Linked DNA regions of Homo sapiens: region 2 is linked to region 1. Evidence: fine-mapped expression QTL. A gene starts in region 1. The other region holds a variant in brackets. All regions are shown on one strand. Distances are from middle to middle.

What was found. PIP is the estimated chance that this variant, and not a neighbour inherited with it, causes the effect. A credible set is the group of variants that fine-mapping cannot tell apart.
Region 2: its variant is the best candidate, but not a certain one, in a credible set for the expression of LRIT3 in prefrontal cortex (BrainSeq, PIP 0.60).

Annotation. Positions count from the first base shown.
Region 1 is chr4:109,839,712-109,856,616 of GRCh38, reverse strand. LRIT3 (leucine rich repeat, Ig-like and transmembrane domains 3) reads right to left here and starts at 8,510. Exons shown (of 4, transcript NM_198506.5): 1 at 8,300-8,510; 2 at 4,641-5,113. The coding sequence starts at 8,415. RRH (retinal pigment epithelium-derived rhodopsin homolog) reads right to left here. Exons shown (of 7, transcript NM_006583.5): 6 at 13,970-14,148; 7 at 11,675-12,534. The coding sequence ends at 12,420.
Region 2 is chr4:109,859,796-109,872,629 of GRCh38, reverse strand. It overlaps LRIT3 (leucine rich repeat, Ig-like and transmembrane domains 3), which reads right to left. Exons shown (of 4, transcript NM_198506.5): 3 at 4,684-4,989; 4 at 315-2,985. The coding sequence ends at 1,841. Among named protein-coding and RNA genes, the nearest start is that of LRIT3, 18 kb to the right of the region's middle. The variant A/TA (reference allele first, on the strand shown) is at 4,079.

The DNA of each region.
Region 1 (16,905 bases):
TCAGTAAAACGCCATTTACAAGGAAGTGAAGATAATTTGAGTTTAGACATAAGCAAGCTAAAAGAAAAGATTTTTGAGGCCTCTCAAGCACACTTAACTTCTTTACCCAGTGATGAAGTTTTAGATGGTATCTCTGAGGGGTTATCTAATCTCAACCCCATTCAATGAGTAAAATCTTTGGGAGGATCCACTATCGGTAATTTTGTTCTGTGTATAATTTGTGCTATTGGTTTATTGTTCATGTGTAAAATTGGAAAAAATATTATTCAATCCAATCATGATCAGCGCCAAGCTATGATTGCTATGGTTCATTTAAATCAGAGAAAATGAGGAGATGTAGGGAGACCCCCTGAAACTATTGCTATGGAATAAAAGATGAAATGCTTCTGATAATTGTAAGTACAAAATTGCATGCAGGATTGTGTAAAGACAATGCCAGGTTGGACTGCCAGAATGAGCCAACAGTGTGTAATGTGCTTCCCCCTGCAGAGAGCCTATGAATGGATGTGCAGTCAGGGAGGTTTCACATCACCAAGATTCCTATCTCAGAAAAGCAGATGTTCATAATTCTGGGAATGGAATGCGACCCTTGTGGAGAGCCTATAAATGGATGCATGAGGGGTGCCTGTTCATATGGATAAGATAGGGCTATAAACGCCCTCATCTTGCCACAGCTCTTCTAGGCCTCTTTAGGGTGAAGGCATACAAACTGTCTCTCAGACTACAGTGCAATCAAACTAGAACTCAGGATTAAGAAACTCACTCAAAACCACTCAACTACATGGAAACTGGACAACCTGCTCCTTAATGACTACAGGGTACATAACAAAATGAAGGCAGAAATAAAGATGTTCTTTGAAACCAATGAGAACAAAGACAGAACATACCAGAATCTCTGGGACACATTTAAAGCAGTGTGTAGAGCGAAATTTATAGCACTACATGCCCACAAGAGAAAGCAGGAAAGATCTAAAATTGACACCCTAACATCACAATTAAAAGAACTAGAGAAGCAAGAGCAAACACATTCAAAAGCTAGCAGAAGGCAAGAAATTACTAAGATCAGAGCAGAACTGAAGGAGATAGAGACAGAAAAAACCCTTCAAAATATCAGTGAATCCAGGAGCTGGTTTTTTGAAAGGATCAACAAAATTGATAGACCGCTAGCAAGACTAATAAAGAAGAAAAGAGAGAAGAATCAAATAGACTCAATAAAAAATGATAAAGGGATATAACCACTGATCCCAAAGAAATACAAACTACCATCAGAGAATACTATAAACACCTCTACACAAATAAACTAGAAAATCTAGAAGAAATGGATAAATTCCTGGACACATACACCCTCCCAATACTAAACCAGGAAGAAGTTGAATCCCTGAATAGACAAATAACAAGTTCTGAAATTGAGGCAGTAATTAAATAGCCTACCAACCAAAAACAGCCCAGGACCAGATGGATTCACAGCTGAATTCTACCAGAGGTACCAGAGGTACAAAGAAAGAAAAAAAGAAAAACAGGAATTCATTTTATGAGGCCAGCATCATCCTGCTACCAAAACCTGGCAGAGACACCACAAAAAAAGAAAATTTCAGGCCAATATCCCTGATGAACATTGACATGAAAATCCTCAATAAAATACTGGAAAACTGAATCCAGCAGCACATCAAAAAGCTTATCCACCACAATCAAGTTGGCTTCATCCCTGGGATGCAACGCTTGTTCAACATATGCAAATCAATAAATGTAATCCATCACATAAACAGAACCAGTGACAAAAAGCACATGATTATCTCAATAGTCGCAGAAAAGGCCTTCTATAAAATTCAACACCCTTTCATGCTAAAAACTCTCAATAAACTAGGTATTGATGGAATGTATCTCAAAATAATATGAGCTATTTACGACAAACCCACAGCCAATATCATACTGAATGGGCAAAAGCTGGAAGCATTCCCTCTGAAAACCGGCACAAGACAAGGATGTCCTCTCTCACCACTCCTATTCAACACAGTATTGGAAGCTCTGGCCAGGGCAATCAGGCAAAAGAAATAAAGGGTATTCAAATAGGAAGAGAGGAAGTCAAATTGTCTCTGTTTGCAGATGACATGATTGTATATTTAGAAAACCCCATCATCTTAGCCAAAGCTGAAAAGCAACTTCAGCAAAGTCTCAGGATACAAAATCAATGTGCTAAAATCACAAGCATTTCTATACACCAATAATAGACAAACAGAGCCAAATCATGAGTGAATTCCCATTCACAATTGGTAAAAAGAGAATAAAATACCTAGGAATACAATTAACAAGGGATGTGAAGGATCTCTTTAAGGAGAACTAAAAACCACTGCTCAAGGAAATAAAAGAAGATATAAACAAATGGAAAAACATTCCATGCTCATGGATAGGAAGAATCAATATTGTGAAAATGGCCATACTGCCCAAAGTAATTTATAGATTCAATGCTAACCCCATCAAGCTACCATTGACTTTCTTCACAGAATTAGGAAAAACTACTACTTTAAATTTCATATGGGACCAAAAAAGAGCCCATATAGCCAAGACAGTCCTAAGCAAAAAACAAAGCTGGAGGCATCACGCTACCTGACTTCAAAATATACTACAAGGCTACAGTAACCAAAACAGCACAGTACTGATACCAAAACAGATATATAGACAAATGGAACAGAACAGAGGTCTCAGAAATAACACCACACATTTACAACCATCTGATCTTTGACAAACCTGACAAAACAAGCAATGGGGAAAGGATTCTCTATTTAATAAATGGGGTTGGGAAAACTGGCTAGCCATATGCAGAAAACTGAAACTGCACCCTTTCCTTACACCTTATTAACTCAAGATGGATTAAAGACTTAAATGTAAGACCTAAAATCATAAAAAACCCTAGAAGAAAACCTAGGCAATACCATTCAGGACATAGGCATGGGTAAAGACTTCATGACTAAAACACCAAAAAGCAATGGCAACAAAAGCCAAAATTGACAAATGGGATCTAATTAAACTAAAGAACTTCTGCACAGCAAAAGAAACTATCATCAAAGTGATGAACAGACAACCTACAGAATGGGAGAAAATGTTTGCAATCTATCCACCTGACAAAGGGATAATATCCAGAATCTACAAGGAACTTAAACAAATTTACAAGAAAAAAGAAAAACAAACAACTCCATCAAAAAGTGGGCAGAGGATATGAACAGACACTTCTCAAAAGAAGACATTTATGCAACCAACAAACATATGAAAAAAAAGCTCATCATCACTGGTTATTAGAGAAATGCAAATCAAAACCACAATGAGATGTAATCTCATGCCAGTTAGAATGGCGATCATTAAAAAGTCAGGAAACAACAGACGCTGGAGAGGATGTGGAGAAATAGGAACGTTTTTACACTGTTGGTGGGAGTATAAATTAGTTCAATCATTGTGGAAGACAGTGTGGCAATTCCTCAAGGACCTAGAACCAGAAATACCATTTGACCCAGCAATCTCATTACTGGGTATATACCCAAAGGATTATAAATCATTCTAGTATAAAGACACATGCACATGTATGTTTATTGCAGCACTATTCACAATAGCAAAGACTTCGAACCAAATGCCCATCAGTGATAGACTGCATAAAGAAAATGTGCCATGTACACACCATGGAATACTATGCAGCCATAAAAAGCATGAGTTCATGTCCTTTGCAGGGACATGAATGAAAGTGGAAACCATCATTCTCAGCAAACTAACACAGAAACAGAAAACCAAACACTGCATGTTCTCACTCATAAGTGGGAGTTGAAAAATGAGAACACATGGACACAGGGAGGGGAACATCACACACTGGGGCCTGTTGTGGGGTAGGGGTCTAGGGGAGGGATAGCATTAGGAGAAATACCTAATGTAGATGACAAGTTGATGGGTGCAGCAAGCCACCATGGCATGTTTATACCTATGTAACAAACCTACAAGTTCTGCACATAAAGTATAATAATAATAATAATAAAAAGAACCAGAGAAATACACATAGAACCTAAACAAGACCAAGTTCAAAATTCCAAAACTAGTCACAGCTAAACTAAGAGACCAAATCAGTTAGGAGAACCATTTGGGGCCAGTAAAATAACTGGTGTTTCCACCATTTCTTTTTAGATTAAGGAAATTTAGAAGCTATTCTTCCTAACTAATGAAGCCACTGCTATCGCATAAAGATGCCAGTGCCCCTCTCCTGCTCCTGAAGAACCTAATGAAGAGTTGAAAAGCAAACTGAGCAGAACTTTGTACCAGAGTATGGAGCAATGCTGTGCTCACAAGAGTCTATGCAGTTGGTTGATTCTGTCTCTCAGCTGGATGCTCTTTAAGAGAAATGGTCCTCTCTCCATTTATGATGCAAGTTCTTCTCCACTTTTCCACACATGTATGTACACACATGCATGCACACACACACAGCTCTTACACCTTACACAGGAGAAAGGGTAACTTGACCTAGGTTAACTAATAAGGTACTATTCCAGTAAAAGTGCAATTACAGAGTAAAAAGCCAAATCCAACAAATTTTAAAAGACTGGACAAAAAAAGCTATGCATAGCAAAGTAACTATAGATGAAAAGCCCAGAGGCTTGCGAGCTTACCAAGAATAATCCTGCTTGGGGAAAGGTCCAGGACTCCAGAAGGTGTTGAAACTAAATGAGTCCAGCTCTCCAGGAAATCTGGTGGCAATGTGGTGAGTCTGTTGCTTGATAAATCCAAGTAGGCAAGGTTCTTCAGATACCTGAGCGCCTCATTTGGCACACTGGTTATTTTGTTATTGTGCAAGTCCAGGGTCCTCAGAAGGGGCATGTCCAGCAGAGATGCCCAAGGGAAAGCAGCCAGAGAATTCCCATCCAAGCGCAACTCATGCAGTTGCTTCAGGTTGTAAAAGCTGCTGGGGTCAATGCTGGCCACGGAATTGTAAGTCACCCAGAGATACTGGAGCTCCACCAGGTAATAGAAGGCCTCCGCAGAGATTCTGCGGATGACAGTCTTCTCTATGCGAAGCTTCACAGTGTCCACGGGGAGGTTCGTAGGCAGCTCGTTCATATCCATGTCATTACATAGCACCAACCTAGTGTCACAACATGAACAATGTGAGGAAACTCACTTTCCAACACCCATTTGAAAAAAATACTTCTCATTTGAAAAATGTATCAATTTTCAGCTGGGCAGTGGCTCACGCCTGTAATCCCAGCACTTTGGGAGGCCGAGGAGGGCCTTGGTTCAAATCTAACCAAGGTCTAAGGTTTGCCACCTCCTCTGTGGCCATGGAAAACCACTTCACCAGTGTCTCAACCTCATTTTCCCATATGGCACTGTTATGGATGATTAATTACAATGGATGTAAAACTCTACAACTTCCTGGCACAGAATAGGTACTCAGTAGGTATTTGCTGCTACTGTCAACAACCTCGGTTTTACATGGAAAGTAACTGAGGCCCACCAACATTCAGTAACTTTCCAAGGTCACCCAGCTAGTGGGTTTCACAGCCACCTTTCAAAACCACTTCTGTCCAACTTAAAGTGCACCTCTTTAGGAAATGGCCCATTTTAAAAGAACCCCCTGTTAAAATAATAAATCAATCCTTGTTCAGAGAATAATTTATTTAGGTGAAAAAAAAAAGTGTTCACAGTACATGTTTAAAGTTGAACTCTGTTTTAATAACGTGACTTGCACATTGCTTTCTGCCTAAGGAATAAACCAGAAATTAGGAGTTGACCTTGAGCAAGTCACATTTTGATCTTGTTTGTTGGCACATATAAAACAGGCATAGAAAAACAACACTGGGCAATGTCCCAGCTGGGCAATGTGGCTCATGGCTGTAATCCCAGCACTTTGGGAGGTCAAGGTGGGCAGATCACCTGAGGTCAGATGTTTGAGACCAGCCTGGCCAACATGACGAAACCCCGACTCCACTAAAAATACAAAAATTAGCCAGGCGCGGTGGTAGGTACCTGTAATCCTACCTACTCAGGAGGCGGAGGTGGGAGAATCGCTTGAACCTGGGAGGCAGAGGTTGCAGTCAGCCAAGATCACGCCACTGCACTCCAGCCTGGGTGACAGAGCGAGACTCCATCTCAAAATAGAAAAGAAAGAAAGAAAGAAAGAAAGAAAGAAAGAAAGAAAGAAAGAAAGAAAGAAAGAAAGAAAGGAAGGAAGGAAGGAAGGAAGGAAGGAAGGAAGGAAGGAAGGAAGGAAGGAAGGAAGGAAGGAAGGAAGACAACACTGTCCCATGTGTAAATTTAAAGTATGAGGAATCTGAGAATTTAGATTCATTTTAGCCTGGAAAAAGACTTATCTCCTATGAGATACTCATCTGAATTATGAAAAATGAACAATAAGAAGTTTTGCAAAGTATCATCTAAATTATAGCACACTATAAATTTAGTAAATAATTACAATAAAATAACCCTTTAGTGAAACATATGACATTAAATCAGTGGATTTGAAAAACCAGCTCATAATGTATACACACGTAAGCAGCATAAAGCTGCAATGTAGTGGTAGTGTTATGTCCTTTCTATAACTTCAGGAAAAGACCTCATGGAATCTTTGAAATCCTCTAGGGATATCTCTTACTTTTCATCTCTATTTTATATCACAGATTTCAGTACTACTTTATACCAGAATGGTAGCAGTTTCTACTCATTAAGAAAGTATTGGCCGGGTGCGGTGGCTCACGCCTGTAATCCCAGCACTTTGGGAGGCCGAGGTGCGTGGATTACCTGAGGTCAGGAGTTTGAGACCAGCCTGGCCAACATGATGAAACCCCATCTCTACTAAAAATACAAAAACTAGCTGGGCATGGTGGCACACGCCTGTAATCCCAGCTCCTTGGGAGGCTGAGGCAGGAGAATTGCTTGAGCCCGGGAGATGGAGGTTGCAGTGAGCCGAGATTGTGCCACTGCACTCCAGCCTGGCTGACAAAGTGAGACTCTGTCTCAAAATAAATAAATAAATAAAATAAGTATCTCAGCATGCTATCATAGAAGAAAGTCTAGTTTGTACGCTAAAAGATCTAGCATCTTTATGAACTTAGTTACTACATCAACACAATTATATGATCTAGGACAAGTCATTTGGTCTCCATACAGTTTAGTTTCTTCACTTATAAACTGACAAGGGGTTGAACTAGATTATTTCTTGCCAGGCCTAATATTCTATAATTTTTATAAAATCCATCAATAATGGGGTCACCACAAAGAAGGAAACATTTCTGTGATAGTTTCTCAAAAGTACCCTGGCCTGATCCTTCACTGCTACACGTCCCTGGACAAGTAGGTCTTTAACTTGCTACATTCTCTTCATTGTCTTTAACCACCCAGTGAATATCTCAAAAAATACCAAGAATTGGTTAACTAAAGTTTATACAATAACAAGATAAGCTTTTCACAAATATGTCTTATTTATTATTATTTATTTGTTTAAAGTTATAAGACATAAATTGGGCAACTCTTTTAACAAATTATTTTATCTGAGACACCGTTTACTTCAACCAAGTCACAAATAACCTGATTTTGTTATTAAATAACCTCTCAAAAAAAAAATTCAAGTTCTACTGTGTTTAGCTAGCAAGAGTTCTGTTTTGCATTTAACATATCTAAAAGGCCTCATGCACAATATAAGTAAATAACTCTTCTCACTACACAAGTAGATGCTAAAGCAACCTAGAGATTGAATAACTTCTGTGAGATCCTGCAGTGTCTGAAACAGACAGTATCTTTTTCAATCTTCTTTATTTTGTAAATTCCATCAGCTTAAAATGAAAAATTCTAACTATTAACCTCTCTAACTTCACTCTTGAGATCTTTCTTTCTGCCATTCAATTGGCATGAATAGTTCTCAAAGGAAGTGGAGAGCCATGAAAGCAAAGGATCTGAGCATGTCACGCAGCTCCTGTTCAGCCTGCCCTCTTAGCCTTTCTATAATCAAGGGCTTAGCTGGCCATGCACCTTTAAATCGTTTGATCTCAAGCAACAATTTGTGAACATGAGCATAATAAAAATTTTGGAACATAGAATGTGTTTAGAAATTTCCAATACCTTGAGAGGCCTTTGAGAGTTAAACTGCTCAAAACGAAAACAGTGAAGGAGTAGGTGACCAGTGTTAAAACAATTAAGTTAAAGCTTATGGACACTAAACATTCTCTTCTGTGATTTCTGATCCCCAAACATTTGCTTTCAAAAGTAGGCTTTCTTGTTTGGGTCCTTTTTGTCAAAATAATGAGAACACTTAGTAACAAGCAGAGGAGCATACCTTGATCCTGAGCCGTCATTTCTGCCGTGATAATCACAGGTGCACTGTGAAGGACACAAACAGCCCACTCCTTCCAAAAAGCTAAGGACAATGCACAGACATGCAAAGAGATGCATTGCTCCTTTTAGAGGTTATTTAAACAAAAGGTAAAAACCGAATCCTAAGCATTCAGAACCTGGTATGCCTGGAATACAAACAGCCATTTAGTAACAGCAGATTACACGGGATTAGCTGAGATCTGTAGTTACTTAACCTTCAAGTGTATCTTGCAGGAGATCAATTGATCCAGCCTTTGAATACAGTTTCAGCAAAGTAACACATTCTAAGGAAAATGAAAATCAAACACATGACAAGCAATTTCAATAGTTACCCGTAACTAGATTTGCAAGAAAATGCCTATTAAATCCCTTTCTTCTGGATGTACTTGCCACTACACCTTAAAAATATACTTAATGTAAAATAATTCAGTCTTGGCAGATGCAAGAAAATTCTGTAGATTATTTACATGTTACAACATTATAAAATGTTTTGCATTTGGTTTTTGCCAGAATGTGTTACTAATTCAGTTTTACAAAATTTAGTTTTAAAAATAGAAGCACATGACATAAAAATGATTTAGAAAAGAGTTATCGATGTTGCCACATACTGGCTATCTCTAAAAGTAAAGTAAAACAAGTCAGTTACACAGATTTTATAGGGAAAATGCTTCAATCCACTACTGATGTGGCAGGACTAAGTTCTCCAATAAGAACGTGTTCTGAGACTCTTCCAGGTCATCTCAGTGTGTGGAAGGTTTATCCCAGCACATTTATTTTTAATGCAGGCAACTATCTCTGTTCAATAGTTTCCCAAGTTATCAGCATCAAAGCCATATTTGAAGATCAACTCTAATTCTTTCAGCTATATTAGGCTCTGTCAGAAAATAAAAATTAAATGTAATTAAATTTAAAAGTATCTCCACACTCATAGAGTGGAGAATCCACAGGGACAATCAAGGATTTAAGTAATAAATATACGTCATTTAACCTTCTTAGTGGCTGCTTCTAACCATCCTCTTTAACTAAAAACCTTTTTAAAAGAAAATTAATTCTATAAAAATAAGCATATTATAGAAAATGTTATTTAAAACCAATAGAATGTATATAAAAACCATACAGTCTGAAAAACTGTGCTCAATTAAAATAAAATACTGCAGGTTTTCAGATTCTGCACAACTCGTTTGTTCATCAAATATTTACTGAGTACTTATTCTCTGCTGAGCATTGAGGGGTACAAAGATAAATAAGACAGTTATTACACATAAGGAACTCACACGATAAAGGGAGGAACAGACTACTAAAGAAGCACGAGAAAAGAGCATCAAACCCAGCCTGTGTTAGTCAAGCAAGACTTCCTAGGGTGGGTGGTGCCTGGCTGCCTTTTACAGGGTGCATGACGATGTATTATGGGAAAATCCAGAAAGTTGCATTGCAAGCAAAGGGAATAGTGGGAACAAAGGGAGGGAAGTGAGAAACAGTGTATTGTCCTCAGAGAATTTCAAGCACTTCTTGTTGCTCAGGCATAAGATTTTGAGGCAGGAAGTTAAAAAAGATAAAGCTGGAGAGATAAGCGGGGATGAAGTTATCAAGGAAACCCTTAGATTCCCTATGGAGAGCTTACTCTCAGCCTACAGGCAATGGGAGCAATAAAAGTTAGGCTTGGGAGTGGCATATCAGCTTATCCTTTCAGGAAGAATTCTCTGGCGGCTGTGTGGAGAAAAGGTTTAGACAGAGCAAGCAAGAAGAAAGGAGGAAGCTTCTAGATAGAGCAAGCAAGAAGAAAGGAGGAGGCTTCAGGTGGATGTCTGTGGTTATAGTCCAGGTGAGCAGCCATTAGGCTACAGCCTTGACTGCTGTGCTAGTAATCGTTAGGATAATGCAGCTTCAGGAAACACCCAGGAGAGAGAAATGATTGATTAGACGTAAGGATGAAGAAGGGATTTAAAAACAACCCTAAGGTTTCCCAGTGCTGGAGATGCAGTGAGAGGTGGTGGCCTCGAGTTTTTGAGCACAAGAGGAAAAAGAAATTGGATGGGTAAAGCTCTGATCGCCAAGTGACCAAGGGTTTTTGAATCATTAATTTCATGGATGTTATGACTTACATGGAAGCAAGACGTGCCAAATTGAGCATAGAAACGCTGTTTAAAGATAAAAACATCAGAAATTAGCAAACTAAGAGGTCAGAGGGAACTATGTAACCAAAGCCAGGTCTTCCTAGTTTTATCATATAAGCAAATTAAAAAATAAATAATATAGCATTGAAATATAATTACTGTACACTGTTGAAGTCCTTTATATTTGAGGCAAAGTTGCTTCTTGCTTATCGCTGGAAATGAGTTCACAGCCTTGCAAATTGGAACTCTGAGTCCATTTTTCTAGACATTATTACAGAAGTTGTCCTGGCCTTTTAATGGCTCTGGGACTTTGGGTGCAGATTTCACTATGCTTTCCCTGTAAAAAGGCTCGGCTATGATAGACAGGATGAGCGAAGACCTAGTGACACAAAGCATTCAGAGCTCTCTCGGAACACTAGACATTTTAATTTGGCCATGAAGAGAGACAAAAAGCTGAAAAGTCCCTCTTGAAGTATGTTAAAGAGGGCCTTGAAAATCCAGCTGAGGGGTTTATACTTACTTGGTGGGTGAGTGAAGGTTTTTAGCCAAAGAATTTGGGCATTGGAACTTTATTTTTAAAAGATTAGCTATGAAATTGTATTGATTGAGGTTGTATTGTATGAATTGATTGCAGTGGGAAAGTCAGAGAGTTAGGAGATAAGGTAGATTACTATGACAGTTTACCTTTCCATATACGTAGAAGACTGTACACATAAAACTAATACCTGTATTTTACTTAATATGTAGCCAAAGGTGCTAAAGAGACAATTTATAGGAAGAAAAAATAGAGATTAAAAAATACAATATGCAAAGATACACAGCCTCACTAGCAGTTAAAGAAATGTGAAATAAAATGACTTTAAGTTAGAGTATATAACTCATAATTTAAATATATACAGGACTATGAGCAGGAATATGCAGTGAAAAGCTCACTTAGACACTGCCAGTATCAGTGAAAACTAATTCAATCTTTCCATAAAGCAAGCTAGCAAAAATAATAGTGTTTTTGTATTTGTATCCAGTATTTCTAGTCTGAAAAGAAACACTCAAATAGAATAACTTCTCCAAAAGAAAAAATATATTTGCACTGAAATATTTTCAGTGGTATATCCATGAAACTAAAAACTGGAAAGCAATTTAAATGTCTACTATTTAAACAATGGTATATTGTATTATGCTTAACAGTCATTTAGAATGACAAATATGTGAAGTCTACAAATTCATTTGACATTGAAAAAATATTTATTGAGTGCCTACTACATGCCAGACAGAATTGGGTATATGTGCTAAGGATACATCAAAGAACAAACATATAAAAATCTCCACTCTGATTGAAGTTAACTCTGTTGGCAAATATATGGAATATATATGCAGAAAAATGGTACTCAAAATTGCAGAAAACATCAAAATATGCACAGGGGTCATAATGCTATATAATATATATGCATTGACTTAACATTTTATTTAGAAACAATCATGTTTAATGTTCATTTATTTTTGTTTAATAACATAAGTTAATTGATTTAAATGTTAAAATGTTGAAATTCAAAAAATGCTTTCTATTCTAACTGGGAACATCCAACAACTCATTTCAGTAATTATCTAGAATTATTCATTTATTCTAACATTAAATTAGTGACTGCTTTTATTCTAATGGAGGAGCCAGGCAAGTTAAAGGTCATCAGTACAGTGTAATGCATGCCATAATAGGGAGAAAGAAAGGGGACCTTAACCTCTGATGCCTAATTCATCAAAGGAGATGAGCAATAAGTTGATATATCAGGACACAGAGAAGCATACACTACAGCAGCCAGAGTGCACAAACAGAAGCACGAGCTGTGCTTGAGGAGCTTACACTCTCATAGGACAATGATCCATGTCTGCACTTGATCTAAATGGGCTCATATTTAAAAGAAAAGCATTGTCAAAAAACTAAAGTGTTTTGATAGTGTGTCCTTTTATCTTATTTCAGATTCTTCCAGAAGCCAATGGGTTTTGAGATACATCCATGGGTAAAATACTTGTCACAGGCATTGTTTGGTGAGTCTGACATTTGAACATGGCAAGCATTGCCCTCCGAAACCTACGATAAAAAAAGGAAAATCTGGCATTAACCCATAATGATTTGGAACTTCTAAAGCATTTTCAAATATGGCTAAGATGCCACTACTGCCAATTTACATCTCTGGATAAATTTCTGCCTCCAACTTTAACATGTCCTGTTGAGAACCTTTATAAATATATAAAGTATATGGTACAGTTAAAGCCCATTTTGCACTATTGATTCTATAGATTTCCTGTTGAGAAACTTTATAAATATATAAGGTATATGGTACAGTTAAAGGTCAATTTTGCACTGTTGATTCTACAGATTGAAGACATCTACTAAAAGTAAATAATTATATGTATTTAAAAGGATGCTACTAATGTCAAGTGCCATGAGTTGTTTATTTGAACTAACAATGTGTATTTCATCCATCTGTTCTTCCTAGCAAGAATTTTCCAAAAGAACTACCAGCAGATTCTGAATTTAAAATGTGTTCTTCATTCTTCTTATGTGGTCTGTTTGGTCTGTAAAATTTTATGTTTCTTCACATACCTGTAGCTAAAGCTGCTTTTCCAAACATTGCCATTCCAGGATAAAATTACCTGACCTCGGCTGGACGCGGTGGCTCACGCCTGTAATCCCAGCGCTTTGGGAGGCCGAGGCGGGCGGATCACGAGGTCAGGAGTTCAAGACGAGCCTGGCCAAGATGGTGAAACCCCATCTCTACTAAAAATACAAAAATTAGCCGGGTGTGGTGGCGGGCACCTGTAATCCCAGCTACTCGGGAGGCTGAGGCAGGGAATTGCTTGAACCTGGAGGCAGAGGTTGCAGTGAGCTGAGATCACACCACTGCACTCCAGCCTGGGTGACAGAGAGAGACTCCGTCTAAACTTCACTGAGGAGGCAGAAAAGGAACATTTTGCTAAGAAACCCAAAAAAGAGAGGAGGTAAGAATTCTCTAGTATCCAGATGCCTTTTATGTTGGGACTAAACTTTTCCCTTGCATTTGAATGATATGTCTTATTTCTTGTAAATATACATCTGTGCTACCCACCAAGTGAGCCCAATGTTGCCTTGTCCATTTTCCAGTTATAGAATCCCTCTTTTCTTTGGAAACCACTATTCCATGTATTTGGGGTGGGGGTAACCATTTGAACTAAGCTGACCACTGACATCCCAGGCTCTTTTCTGCCAGAGAGCCATCTGAGATGCAATTGGCATTTGGGGATGCTTAGCTGGTAGAACTTGGGTCTGGGGTTGCCCACAATCATCTCTGCCACTGTGTGGGAAGAGTCTGTAACAAATCTGGAGCTCTAAGCATTTAAGGTCCTAGATGCTGCTCCAGTCACATGAGGCAAATGACCTTTATGCTAGATTGAAGTGGGTTTCTGTCACTTCTCTCCCAAGAAGTCTTAACATTCTTTTTATATCAGTTTTATTTTGTACTGCAAGCATTTTAGACATTACTTACTTTTTATTAGCAACCACATAAATGCAGGGGTTATAGAATGTAGAAGATTTTGCAAACAGTGGAGCTATGATGGCCATGGGGGGAGGAATCTTCTTTGGGTCACCAAAAGAAGCCCATAAGCACACGATGGAATAAGGGGACCATGCCACCAGAAACATGCAGATCATGATCACAGACATCTGAAAAGAAATAAATATTCACCAAGCCCAATACCTAAAATATTTAAATATTAATATATCTAAAGTTGGGTAAAAATCTATCTGGGTTGGAATTTGAATATGTTTATGTTTTTGATGACATAAAGGAAATAGTTGAGTTTTTTTTCTGCCTTCAATGTTCTTTTTTCAAGTGCCTGAAGTCCTCGATGATAATAAGACCTTGTGAAATGGGTATATCAAGAATATATAACATTGCTTTTAAGAATGGTACACACACATAAGGAATGCCCTCTTTCTTTCTGCGTGCTAGGGGAGAGTACAAAAGCTGACTTTGATGAAAGACAGATAAAAACCCACCCCACCCCACTTCACATCATTATGCTATGAACTCCTGGCATGGCTATTATTATTATTATCACCATCATTATTATTTGCTCTTACTGGGATTACCTGCTAAATTAACAAAAGTAACTTTCTAACTTTCTAAACTCAATCTGGAAACAAATACAATCCTATCTTGAGCTCAGTGAATTCTAACACAGGCCATTTCTGCTGGATATATGTTACACACAATGCAGACAATTTTGTAAAGGAGATCTCTTGCATCTTGTTTAAATGGAAAAATTATATTTTTATATTGCTTCCCTAGATTGCCTGCTAAAATTATGGAACAGAGGTTAAAGAAGACATAAAACCATAAGGACAGAGAATCAGAGATTAGATAATACATATTTTTAATGGAAAAAATGGCCATTGGATAAGTGGCAAATTATGTAAGAAACATGAGAATAATTTTATAAATAAGTAAATAAATAAACGTTAAAAAGAGCCAACTATGAGGGAAAACCAGATACAGACCAATCCATACTACAGAGCTACAGAAATTCTAGTAACAAAGGGTACCAGAAAACTCTAGATGTGGGGGTGCACATGGAGCTCAAAATAGAACTGGTTGAAATCTACAAAGAAAGTAGACTTCCAAATCTTTACCCCTGTCCACTCAGTCTACTCAGTAACTTCCCCTTCCTCTCCCTAGAAGACTTCCAGAGGCTCAGTATAAAGAAAAAAGAAGGCTAATTTGGGAAACTCAGAACACAGGGACACCAGGTTCAGCTAAGCACTTCAGTACTGTATTGAAAAGAGGGGTACCTGTATGCTGCTCCCTCCCTGCACTGAGTGTGAAAAAACTTGGAGATAGACTTGTGCCTCCCACCCAGGAACATGAAAGGAACTGATCTGCCCAGAATAAAATACCTAAAGATATAGTTACCTAGACAGTTAGAAATTCCCCCAAACCTCCATTCCATCATTTTAGCAGGCAATCAGGAGGGAGCAACATGAAAAATATAATTTTTCCATTTAAACAAGATACAAGAGAGCTCCTTTACAAAATTATCTGCATCATGTGTAATATATATCCAGCAGAAATGGCCTGTGCTAGAATTCACTGAGCTCAAGATAGGATTGTATTTGTTTCCAGATTGAGTTTGGAAGTTAGAAAAAAAATTTTTTTGATTAGCAGATAATCACAGTGAGAGCAAATAATAATAATGATGATGGTGGTCATAATAGTAATAATAACTACAGAGACAATTAGAAATTCCCCCAAAAGAAACATCTTGCTAATGAGCATCTCCATGCTTACAATCAACATTTTTAATGCATTACTCTTAAGTATGAAGGGACAATCACTGACCACCAGACATTAAGAAAACTTTTACATTGACAGGCAAAGAAAAAAAAAAAAACAGTGCAAGAACTCAGGGGAAACAAAAATATGTGGTAAACAGAAGGAAGTATAAATATATACATAATATCACAGAAATAACAGGAGATATACATCCATAAAACAAGGAGAGAATAGAGTATAAAATAGCTGTTTTATCAATAAAAATGGTTTTTAACTCAAGAAGAGAACCCAGGCAATACCATTCAGGACATAGGCACAGGCAAAGATTTCATGATGAAGATGCCAAAAGCAATTGCAACAGAAGCAAAAGTTGACAAATAGGATCTAATTAAACTAAAGAGCTTCTACACAGCAAAAGAAACTATAAACAGAGTAAACAGACAACCGACAGAATGGGAGAAAATTTTTGCAATCTGTGCATCTGACAAAGGTCTAATATCCAGCATCTACAAGGAACTTAAACAAATTTATAAGACAAAAACAAGCAACCCCATTAAAAAGTGGGCAAGGGACATGAACAGGCATTTCTCAAAAGAAGACATACATGCAGCCAAGAAACATGAAAAAAAAAAAGCTCATCACTGATCATGAGAGAAATGCAAATCAAAACCACAATGAGATACAATCTCATACCAGTCAGAATAGCTGCTAATAAAAAGTCAAAAAATAACAGATGCTGGTGAGGTTGTGGGAAAAAAACACTTTTACACTCTTGATGGGAGTATAACTTAGTTCAACCATTGTGGAAGATTGTGTGTGGCAATTCCTCAAAGACCTAGAGACAGAAATACCATTTGTCCCACCAATTCTTTTACTGAGTATATACCCAAAGGAATATAAATCATTGTATTATAAAGACACATGCACATGTATGTTTATTGCAGCACTATTCACAATAGCAATCATGGACATGACATGGAATTAACCTAAATTCTCATCAATGATAGACTGGATAAAGAAAATGTGGTACATATACACCATGGAATACCATACAGCCATAAAGGAATGAGATCATGTCCTTTGCAGGGACATCGATGGAGCTGGAGGCCATTATCTTTAGCAAACTAATGCAGGAACAGAAAACCAAA
Region 2 (12,834 bases), 18 kb before region 1:
AAATTTTACCTGGTGGTGACCTCCAAAACAGAGGCACAAAGTAAAGATAGAAGGCAGCAACACATGTGAAAACAGAACAAAAACTGCCAGACCCACTGTAGAGTGTTCCTCAGACCTCACCCAATCTCTCGATCAGAGCCAGGCCCTGGCCACTCTCCCTTGATCCTCCTGTAGAAATGGGTGTCATCACTCATTGGCTTACTCAAATTTCATCCTCACTGCTAGTTGTGTTCTGAGGTTTTGGGTGGTCCCAGCTAGCCAGCTTCACAAGGGTGATTTATCCCTGTCATCAAAGATGAGTCTTAGACACCATCTAATGCTCAAGTAGTTTATTCCAGCAGTGCTCTTACAAGACAGAAAGCAGGAGCTGGCTGGTGTCATAGGCCGGATATAGTCAGAGGTCAGATGACCAACTGACTAGGAGAGCTTCTATTTGAGGACCGTTCTCAGAGTTTGGGAGATCTTTCCCATTTCTTATACATGTATTCAGTCTGGGTCAATTACCAAGTGTTTCTTTCATAGAGCAAGTTTAATCTAGTAAGGTTAGGCTTTGTTCTAAAATTTATGAAAGTTGCATCTGTGCTGAGGTGGCCTTGTCTTCTGGAAATCCCTAGGCCAGGTTGCATCCTGCTAAGTGACATGTAATATCACCACTGTGAGATGCTTGAGTGGGCCTTATCGCTATCGTTAATCTTAAAGCCATGAGATGTTTCTTGTAGTATACTACAGTTATTAAAATATTCTCTTTCTAAAAAAACTAAATTTTATTTGTGAACTCCTTTCCTATGTATTTAAGTTCCCCGATGTTTTTAACCTAGGAAAAGAATCTAACCAAATGAATCCACTGAAGCTTCCCTTTTAAAGTCCTAAAATATCCTTTGGGGTTGTAAAACAGACTTTCAAAGGGCAGTAAGTAATTTCAAAAGCTTTCTCTTTATCAAGAGAATCAAAAGACAATATGGCAAAAGACAAACAGCTTGGCTCGTGATGCTTTGGCTACTTGTATATCTTCTGACAGAGCAGAAGAAAGAAAGAATGAAGGAAGGAAAGGGAGGGAAGACAAGGAAGGAAGAAAGAAGGGAGAACATAAGAGCAAACAGCAAAATATTAAAAGATTGATTTAAAGTTATTTTTAAATATCCATATAATCTGTCAGTCGATGTGTTTAAATGCAACAGTTACCATTTTTAAAGAAATGGTCTATTTGTCATAATCCTCTTTGTATACTTACTTTTGCTAATACCTATATTTCTAAAGAAAAGCAAAAATTTTTCTTACAAGAAATATGAACACAACTCTATAGTATCACAATGCATAATGGTACCAAGAGACAGAGCCCTCTCTCTCCCGTGAGTTAGATTTAACCTTAGTGAACACAAAATCCTTTATGATCCCACGCTCTCCATTAGGCAATGTCAGAAAACATCCACAGCAAATGCTATAATGCACTTCGAACATGAATAAACATCAAGGCTTAGCTGGTTTTGCTAATGTTTCCTCATGACTCAAAAAACTATATTTTTAAATACAGAGTTCACTTGCTACTTTCACATGAACTTATTTTTAAGAACTAAAACATTACCCTAAAAAGTATTAATAATTTATTAAGCACCACTCTAAAAATTATTTCTGTAGACCTTTTCCACACAAGAAAAAAAATCAACATTATTTGTCTTTTCAGTTCAGAGGTCTCATGGTATTTTTTAAACATACTTAAAAGCATTCCATTTGTGATTTTCATGTACAATGTGAAAGTCTGTCCAAAAGTCATCCAAACCTAGGGTCAATTATACCCTTAGATGCTAGTTTTGTAGCTCACATGCACCTGAGCTGCAGAACCTTAGCAATAATACTCTGGTCTGGAACCTTCACTTTTAAAAGTCACCTGAGATTCCACACTTGACCTAGAACAAAGCAGCAATTTCTCTGAGTCATCCCTGTGGCTTCGTGTCCAGAGCTCACCTACACTTTGAGACCTGGGAAACAGGGTCTCAAATTGGATATAAGTCTCCTTTGCCAAATCATCTTCCCAAAAAGGTTCTGATTTACATTGCAGTTTGCAAACTTTGTACAACAAGAAACAAATCAATGGTAAGATAACAACACAGGCAGTACTGGTCACCACGAGAAGGAGAGACCATTGAGAATCATCTCCTTCAACTCTTTCAGTAGAAAAGGTGATGCATTGGTCTTTCTGGGGAGGCACTCCTTTTGGACAGACACAGGCCATGTATTGCCCACCGGGTTCCAAGCCATCTATGGTTACTTGGTTCTTGCTGGAGTCTGCATTCAACAGCAGCAGGTCCTTCCCACCATACTTGGAATACAACACAGTCACTGCAGAGTTATGTGTGGTGTTGATCATATTCCACGTCAATGTCACACTCTCTTTAGTCTCACTGACCACCCTGAGGTTTTCTATTGCGGCATTTGTCTCCGTAAGCATTGTTTGATCCAACAATGCCAGCTCTTCTTTCTTACTTGTGCTGGCTGGAGGAAGCTTACTTCCATTCTTTGCCACCTTTAAATTTCTTTTCCCACCTTGGTGGAGCTGGAATGATCGCTTGTTGGCCATGGTGGTACTTGCTGAGATGCTTGTGCTCAGAGTTGTGGTTGAAGAAACAGTGGAGGAGGAGAAAGGAGATAAAGAGAAGGAAGCAGTAGAGGGAGGAGACAAAGTAGAAGCAGAAAAAGAAGATGTGGGGGAGAAGGAAGAGGACCAAAGATATGATGATGCGCTAGATACAGATGTAGATCTTCCAGATCCCGGCTGGACATCCCACTCAGGATGATCTCCAGTTCTTTCAGAAGTGTCTGGTGGTATTGGAGTTGTGGTAATGCCAAGCACTGTCACAGTAACCACAGCTTCTGACATCCCAGCCAGATTTTTGGCCTTACATTTGTAATCCCCAGCGTCTTTGGAAGAAATGCCTGTCAAGCTCATTATGGACCATCTGACTCCTTCCTCTGGAGATTCTTGTATTACTGGAAGAAAACAAATGTATAGTCTGTGAGGAACAAAAAGAAAATTCAAGCCACCATGCCAACTGAGGAGGAAACAACTATCCACTCTACATGCATCCTCTCACAGAAGCCAAGAGGGAAATGGCACCCTGCAAGTCTCTGACAGTGGGTGATAGTTCTGCAAACTGCTTACATCAAGGTCTAGGACCTGCCAGGTGTTGTGAGGTCTGTACAGGGAATAGTATTTTTAAAAGACAAAAGGCTGGGAATCAGGACACTTGGGTTTTAGAAACTTTTGCCCACTAAACAGTGTTTGGTTGTAGATAAGTCAATTCATATCTTTAGGCTTCTGTTTCTGCATTTATAAAATAAGAGGATGAGACGAAGTAATCTCAAAGGTCCCTTTCAATTTTAAGTCACTGTGATTCTATGGAATGTTTTTCATAAGATCTTACTTAAGTATTTCTTATTATATGTTTTCATGGTAATAAAATGCATATATCTCTATAGCCAGAGGTACAGCAGATCATTTTCTGGCATGGCAGAGTCATCATTTGTATTCCGAATAATTTATTTTATATTTAACTTAGGTAAACTGGCAAATCAAGGATTCTTTTGTTTGCAAATAACATATAGTTTTTTAAAAAATCAGAATTTTGCTATCCTAAACTCTGATATCTGGGTATATTTTCATTCTTCCTTGATTTCAGAAGCTTTTCAAAGAATAATAATAATGCGCAGAACAGTAGCCCAGTAGCCCAAAACTTAACTCACTAGCTGAAACTGTGGACCATTGACTACCTATATATAGGAACATTAGGCCTTAACTTCTTTATTTCCATCAGGTTTCATTATTTCAACCTGAATTTTAGTTTAATATTGAAGAGTTTTAAAAATATATCACTTTAATTGTCAGAATATCACTCTTGAAATTGGGCACAAAGCATACACATTGTCACACTAGGATCTGAAAAGTCTATATAATCAATATTTCTAAAAATTATACTTTTTGATTCATAATAAGGTGTCCATGTAATTTATTATTTAAATAATTATTCAAAAATGAGAGACTTGTACAAAAGCCCCCCGTCCTTTTTTTTTTTTTTTTTTTTTT[A/TA]AGACAGTCTTACTCTGCAGTGGTGCGATCTTAACTCACTGCAACCTCCACCCCCCAAATTCAAGCAATTCTCCTGCCTCAGCCTCCTGAGTAGCTGGGATTACAGGTGCACACTACCAAGCCCAGCTGATTTTTGTATTTTTAGTAGAGACGGAGTTTTGCCATGTTGGCCAGGCTGGTCTCAAACTCCTGACCTCAGGTGATCCACCCACCTCGGCCTCCCAAAGTGCTGGGATTACAGGTGTGAGCCACCGCACCCAACCAGCAAAAGGCCCTTTTTAAAAAATTGTAAAGGCTGTACATTTTGAAGTAAGCTGTATCCAAGTTGATGAAGCAAGACAAAGACCTTGTCTGCCATTGATCCATCCACTGCATTGTTTCATTCTACCTAAGAAAAAGAGTTTAGATTGTTTAATTTTATCTAGGTAGTTAGATAAACTGAGGAGAATACTAATGAATAAAATGTACCTTTAAAATCCCTTGCACCCAATAATCTTGAAATATTTTATTAGTGTTAACTAGCTAATTTCAAATCACACAACACATGATGTTAACTTCAAAGCTTAGTAAACTCCTTTGATCATGGGGCTGAATTAAGAAAATACCTGTATAATTAACTGGCGAGCTGTCAGATCTGGTCCATGTGATCTGTGGGGTGGGGAAGCCAGTGGCATCACACCGCAGTAGAACATTACTGCCCAGAGCAGACATGATTTTGGTGGCTGAGGTCATCACTGATGGTTTCAGACAATGCTCCAATTCAGCCCGCTGAAACAAAATTCCTGTGAGGCGCTCAGGTTCACTGCAAGTCATCAGTGGATCCAGAAGCACTATAGCAGGGTCAACGACCTTTGACAACTCAATCATTTTGGAAATATGACAGTCACAGAACCAAGGATTGTCCTGTAGACCTAAAACAGAAGGTGGGAAAGGTTGACAAAGATTATTCTGATGACTTCAGTTTACATCCTGCCTCTTGAGAAAGTAGGGATCTACACTGTCTCCCTATAAACAGAAGTGCTTTGAGGGATGAAGCAGAGTCACCTTTATGTCAGTTTTGCTCTGCAATCCAGCAATCTCGGTGAACATATCCTGTCCATTAGTTCAGATCATTAATAATCATGGCTAATACTTATTGAGCATTCACTCTGTGCTAGATTATGTACTAAGCACTTACCTGTATTATCACATGTAATCTCAATAATCCTATGAGAAAATGATATTATTATTCCTATGTTAAAGATGAAGCTCAGACTTCATCTATCCCTATGTTAAAGATGAGGCCTCAGAGGGACCCAATAACTTGGCCAAGGTCACAAAGCTAATTAGTGTCAGAGCCAAGACTTTAATCCAGGTACCATAGAATGCCATAATACAGTAATAAAGATCTTTCAAAGGTGCTATGAAAGTACTTACAGTATTGTAAGTATTATAGGGTGCTCAGAGACACCTAACTCAACCTGGAATAGGTTATGGTTTTATGTGATTTGAAGGTATATTGAGGTAATGCAAGCTTTGTGTGGCAAAAGATATAGAGTGAGATGCTGGCAATGGCAGTAGAGAAGTCTAGAAAGACTGGTGGAAGCAAGAACATGGCTTGGCATGAATGTCATATATGGTGACCATGAAGGTGACTTGCTCAATACTCCCTTCAAGAGAGAATCAGCTGCAAGCAATGCGGTTAGCGGACAGCTTCCAGTTGCAAGCATCTTCAGGATGTCTCACTTTCAGAATTGTTAGCAGAAGCCTTTGGGCCTTCAGGAAGGCTATCAGTGAGGGCTTGAAGAAAAGTGAGGAAAATGTTGCTGGAAACTAGAGGAAAGAGGATCCTTGCTACTGAGTAGCAAAAAGTTTAGCAGCACTGTCACCTGTGGTCCACATGGAAAATCAAAAACATACTCAATGCAATGTGGTCTACCTAAGGATAGTTCCACAAAGAGTATTGAAACTACTCCCTGGTGTGTTTTAGGTAATAAAATATAAAGGAGAGGCAACAGTTAAAGAAGAACTGTTAAATATAAAGGAATCGAAATTTGCTGAGTTCAATTAAAAAATTGTTTCTTATTCTCGGCCTCTCCAAAATTCTCAAATTAAGATAGAACTTCAGAGCAAACATCGAATCCAGGCGTGACTGTAAAATTTTGTGCTAAAATCTCAGAAGGATCTAAGATGGAGCTTTAGAGCATTCTGTCAGGCAAAAGTCTCTCTAGGATCTTAGGGGTGATGTTCCATAACAGCCTCATATAAAGCCCAAGATAGAAAAAAATTTGTCACAGAGATTTGTGGTTATAGCTTTTTACTAATGGAGTGGATTATAAATTGAGAAGAAAAGACGAAACTGCAATTTTACAAATTCTAACCATGCTGGAAATGTAACTGTTAGTTCATAAATTCTATATTTTTATTATACTTTTTAAAAATTATAATAGCAAGTCATGACTGGCTCGTATTTTTCTGCCAGGATTGGTAAAAGTTTACTTTTTCATCTCCTGTTTTAGAAGTATGCTTTTCTTCCATGGGTGAATAACTTTAAACTTTTCCTCTTATATTTAATCTTGTTAATCTATACCTAGTTATTGAATCAATATTAATTTGAATTCTATTCTCTTAACTGTTGGCTCTTTCATCCAATTTTATATGGTAAGCAGACTTTCTAGTTTATTTTATATTGCTATGATTAAGTGTGGCTCTGGAACCTAACGTCTGGGCTGAAATCTTGGTTCTGTCAAGCTTCACCCCCATGAGATATCTATAATAACAACCTCTCTCAGCCTCATCTATAGAATGCAGTAGTTCTTTCATAGAGTTGCATGAATTTTTAATTACATAATTCATGGAAATTACTTTGAACAATGGTTTATTCATAGTGACCTTTAACCTTTCTTGCTAAACATAGTACTTAAAATCTTTTGTAAAATATAGTCATTTCAATCTCTGAATAAGTAACAAATTTCATTCACACAAAACATATTCCCTATACTAGAGTCCATATTTTCTTGATCTTAACAAAAGAAACCAAATGTAATACAATCTGTATGTCTACTAAGAAAGAATTCAAAACAAGTACATAAGTAATGGTGGAGATATGATCTGATAGATACCAAAACACCTATAATAATGTAGTCAGTTCATAGACATTCAAAAACCCATTTCACCACCAGATACCACATTAGATATTCAGTCATTATTGTACGTATTAGTTGACCTGATATGTGAAGGCCAGATTTAAATATATGAAAGAGAAATTTTAAAAGTAATAGGAAATGACATTCTCACCAACTTTACTGTGCCTGGGTTCCTGATGAGGCTCAACCATTAGTTAATTCTGTGACCTGGGTGATGCAACCTTGCTGAGCCTGTTTTCTCATCGGCAAAATGGGAGAGTTGACTAGATAAATGCTAGAGCTTTTTACAGCCGTAACGTTCTATCAGCCTATAAAATAAAAATAATGATCATAGACTAAAAGAAACCAAAGATGGAACAACAAACTAACACTAAAATCCATCATCACTCAGTAAAAAGCAGAAGAATATGATAGAATGCCTAATTTGTAACATTTTTATCTCTATTGATTGAGGTGCTAAAGATAATCTGTGGATCTAGACTCTCCTAATAGTGCTATTTTTAAATCTTTCAAGTTTGTGACTTTTCTATGTCTACATTGATACACAGTTCAAATGTGAATATCATACAAAGTGAAGCCAGTTTATGAACTTTGACTACAATACAGACTAAAAGTAGTCAATTCTCCTTTTATAAACAATATAACTGATTTTACTTATTAAAATGGAGGGGAGGGGGAATCATGAACCTCTTCCAAAGGCTGAAATCCTTTCAGTAGTTTATTTTACTTTGTACATGTATTTTTCACATTAACCAGTTTTGCCTTATATACATGTAAATGTTATTATAAAGAACTAAATTTGGAATTAGATTGTTAGACTGTGACCCACACAGTTTAACAAATTAATCAGGTCAGTTTGTGTATAATGTGCCAATAACCTCTACAAAAAGTTATAAAAGATTAAAAATGTTGCTATCAGTTGGTATTGTCAGCATTGTGAGCTGTAGTTTGCAAGAAATCAATGAATAAATATATGGCTTGCCTCTCACAAATAATTAAATCTCAAAGTGAGGATCCAATCACATGTCTGCTCCCTGAGTGAAAGAGAAAACCAGCAAAGAGAAGAGCACAGGATGCAAACTGGCAAGTGTCCTCTAGGGCAAAGGGATGTTATCATAGTGCCTAAGAGGAGGAAAGGGGATATTTTAAGTTAGATAAAAACAATCAAAAGATTTAGAAAGGAACATGTAAACACCCACCTTAATATAGTAAGAATTCATAAATAGAATGATACTAAAACATTTATATTGAAATAAAAGGTTACTTATATTTTATATCTATAAATTTGTGTCAAAATTTATATATAAAAGCTATGCTCATCATAGCTATTTTATTATTTAATTTTAAGATTAATTTCTAAATCTGCCAGCACATCAAATTTATTCAGTTATATAATATGTATAGACTATTTCATAGTTTGAAAACACTTCAACTTATGCCAGATTTTTTTCTTTATGTAATACTACCAATGCAAGTTACAAGTTTTGATTGCTTCCTATGTGGCAAAGACCGTGCTTCTCCAAAACTGCAGAGGCTCTGAGATTTGACCCTACTTTAGGGTGACCAACCTATTCCAGTTTGCCAGCAACTCATTTCAGTTTGCCCAGGACTTTCTTGCTTTTAGCACTGAGAGGTCCACATTCTGGGAAACTTCTCAGATATGGGCAAGTTTGCCTGCCATCGTTTTATGGATGTTGGTAGAAGACACAAGACTCCTGCTCAGGGTTGAAGGAGCTCATTGCTCACAGCACTGAAGGGAGACATCTTTATTATACTGGGTAGTAAGCATGCTTACCCTTTGCTCTGGAAGGAGATATATTTCTACCTCCAAAGCTGTTCTCTTGAAAAGATAGTGCAGAATAAAAGGTAATCCTTGAAAAGATAGTGCAGAATAAAAGGTAATCAATGTCTGCCTCTGCTCACAAGACATGCAGAGATTCAGGAGATCAAAGAACAACGGCACTAAGCGTCTGAAGGATGGACTGACTCAATCCTCACAAAAGCATGGGATAGGTAGTACTATTATCATCCCCATTTTAAAGATGAGAAAACCAAGGTTCAGGAAGCTTAAGGAATCTGCCCAGGGTCACACAATTGGACAGCCAGGATTTGAACTTCAGTATCCTGATCTTAAACCACCATGCTGGTTAAAGGTTTTAACCACCCACCACAGTGGTTAAAGCTCTTAACCGCCATGTTATGCCTTCTACCACCTCTGGAATCTGGTATTATTCTTCCAGTTTTACACCAAAGGAAGCCAAAGCACAAAGATATTACTATCTTGACTTTGTAAATGGCTTAGAATCCTACATCCCAGATTTTTTTAGCATCCTAATCTAATACCCTTTCTATCATAACTCATCTCTTTGCCATCTAAAAACATTTAGAGTCATAGTGACAGTCATAAGCGCTATTATTTACAAATAAAAAAATGTCCAGGCACAATGGCTCACACCTGTAATCCCAACACTTTGTGAGGCTGAGGTGGGAAGATTGCTTGAGGTCAGGAGTTCAAGGCCAGCCTGTGCAACATGGCAAGATCCTGTCTCTACAAAAAATACAAAAATACAAAAATTAGCCAGGTATGGTGGCGGCACTTGCCTGTTGTCCCAGCTACCAGGAGGCTGAGTTGAGGGGATCAACTGAGCCCAGGAGTCATGGTTTGTGCCACTGCACTCCAGCCTGGGTGACAAAGTGAGATACTCTTTCAAAATAAAATAAAATTTAAAAATGTTAAAGCAGCAATATCTGGAGTATAAATGTTTACACAGGGAAAGATTTAAGAGCTATACAATGTTAACAATTTATTTCATGCTTTGAAATTATTAAAAAATGTATTAATGGTGAAAGAAAATTCTTTAAAAAATTAATTTCACTGGTTATATATAAAAGTTATGTAAATATTTTTAAATCCTTCAAAAATAAAATGTCTATTTACTCCAGCTTGAAACTTCTAAGGTCAAAGGTACAATTTTTAAAACCTGAATAAAAATAGTGATCCAAGAACTGAATATATTTAAGTGTTTTTTTCTTCTGAGGACAAAGGAAAGAGAACTCTCTCAAGTTAAACTGTTACTTGCACTGCATTCCTTCAAGGCAATACATCAACTACAATTACACTAATTTGCATTAATTAGTTTACTTTATATAACTATTCTTGGATGGGACAAGTGAACTTTATCCTTTCTAAAAGAATAGTATTTATATGCATCAGAATAGTTGGACTAAATGCGCTATTTTTGTGTGAAAAGTGAGCAATAAATTTTTGTACAAAAGTTATTCTGAGGACTATAAGCCCTTGAAGGCAAAGACTATGCCTACTCAGCTTTGTGGAGACAACCATGTTTAACAATTCAGTAGGGAAAGGAACGTCTTTTTAATGAATGGTGCTGGAACAAGTGGACACGTGTTTGCAAGCATATGAACCTCAACCCCTACTTTACACAATACTCCAAAACTATTTTGAGATGGATAATAGCTATAAGCCTAAGAGCTAAGAATATACAGCTAAAAATTGAGTATAAAGGCTAAAACTATAAGAAAATATCATATCTGTGATTTTGAGGTAGGCAAACATGTTTTAGATGATACACAGAAAGCACTAACTGTAAAAGGAAAAAACTAATGAATCAAATGTCATCAAAATGTAAACCTTTTTTTACTAAAGACACCAGGAAAAAATAAATAGGCAAGTCAGCCTTGGAGAAAATATTCACAGTGCATATAACAGACAAAAGACTTATATTCAATAAAGAAAAGACAAATAGCCCTTAAAAATTAAGCAAAAGATAGTTCATAAAGGAAGATATACAGTGACCCATAAGCAAATGAAAATCTGGCCAACACCATTAATAATCAGGGAAATGGAAATTAAAAACACATTGTGATACCGCTTCCTGACCCACCCACCCCCCAGAATAGCTGAAATGAAAAAGACCAACAACATTAAGTGTTGGTGAGGATATGGAGCAACCAGACTGTCATGCAGTGCTAGTGGGAATGTATAATGTTATACAGTCTCTTTGGAAAACAGGAAGTTTCCTTAAAAGTTATACATATAGCCATTCTTTTTCTCTTTTTTTTTTTTTCCACCCAGGATGTAGTGCAGTGACGTGATCTCAATTCACTGCAACATCTGCCTCCCAGGTTTCTCCTACCTCACCTGAGTAGCTGGGACTATAGGCATGCACCACCACACCTGGCTAATTTTTGTATTTTTTAGTAGAGGCAGGGTTTCGCCACATTGACCAGGCTGGTCTCAAACTCCTGACTAAAAGTGATCTGCCTGCCTTCGCCTCCCAAAGTGTTGGGATTACAGGAGTGAGCCATGGCCCCCAGCCATATAGCCATTCTATAATCCAGCAATTTCAATTCTAGGAATTTATCCAAGATAATGAAATGAAAACATGTGCCACAAAAAGCTTTGTACAAGAATGTTAATTGCAGCTTAATTTATTATGGCCCCAAACTCGAAACACCCATGTGTCCAACATCAGGAGAAAGGATGAACAATTGCTTCATTCATACAATTGAATACAATTTTGCAATAATGAACTACCAATACATGCGACAGCATGGATGATTTTCAAAAACATGATGCTGAGTGAAAGAAGCCTGGCACAAAGGTTCATCTTATATGATTCCATTTACATAACATTCTAGAGCAGGCACAATTAACCTATAGTGATGAAAATTCAAATAGGTGAGGCAAGATTGACTGGAAAGAAACACAGAACTTTCTGAGGTCATGGAAATATTCTGTATCTTGATGATGGTGTAAGTTATGTAAGGGTATACATTTATCAGAATTTAACAAACTGTAGACTTACAATCCTGCATTCCACCTATACAAAGTATACCTTAATGTCTCCATTAAAAACAAGGTTTTAAAAAGTAAAGAGTGATGTCTTTGGAGATTAACTGTAAATTTGAAACTTGACTCTGCCAGCTATAGAAAGAGGGTGAGGATTAGAGCACCCAGCAAGGCATAAACCTTACCTATGTGGATTTGTTTCCTCAAACCAAAAAAGGGTGGGGCACATCTACAGAGATTGATAAGTGTTTTTTGAACTAAATTAACACCATTTTAGAAAAGTCTGGAAATACTAGGGCTGCCACCATCCTTCAGGCAAACTCCATTTCAAATAGGAAAAGAGCCCATGTTTACAATTCAGCAAATTTGGGTACAAGTAAAACAACACCCCCAAAAAAAAAGCATTTTATGTTTTATTCTACCACAGGCCTTTTTCTCTGAGACAAACAGTGTCAGGACTTACAGAATATGCCTGTGTAAATATTTACTTAATCTTAAGAAACAGGCCATGGAAATTTACCTGCATTGCAAAACAAAACCTGGTTTTATAGTTAATTCCAATGTTTATTTGCAGGGCAATAGTTTAAGTATTCATGGATACAATAAAGGACAATTTTACTAAGTTGATGTTTTTACTCCTGTAGAAGAGAAAGAGTAATTGAAAAGCCTCACCTTATGTAGGGAGACCCCTTGAAACTATTGCTATGGAATAAAAGATGAAATGCTCCTGATTATTGTAAGTACAAAATTGCATGCAGGATTGTGTAAGGACAATGCCAGGCTGGACTGCCAGAATGAGCCAACATGCGTGATGTGCT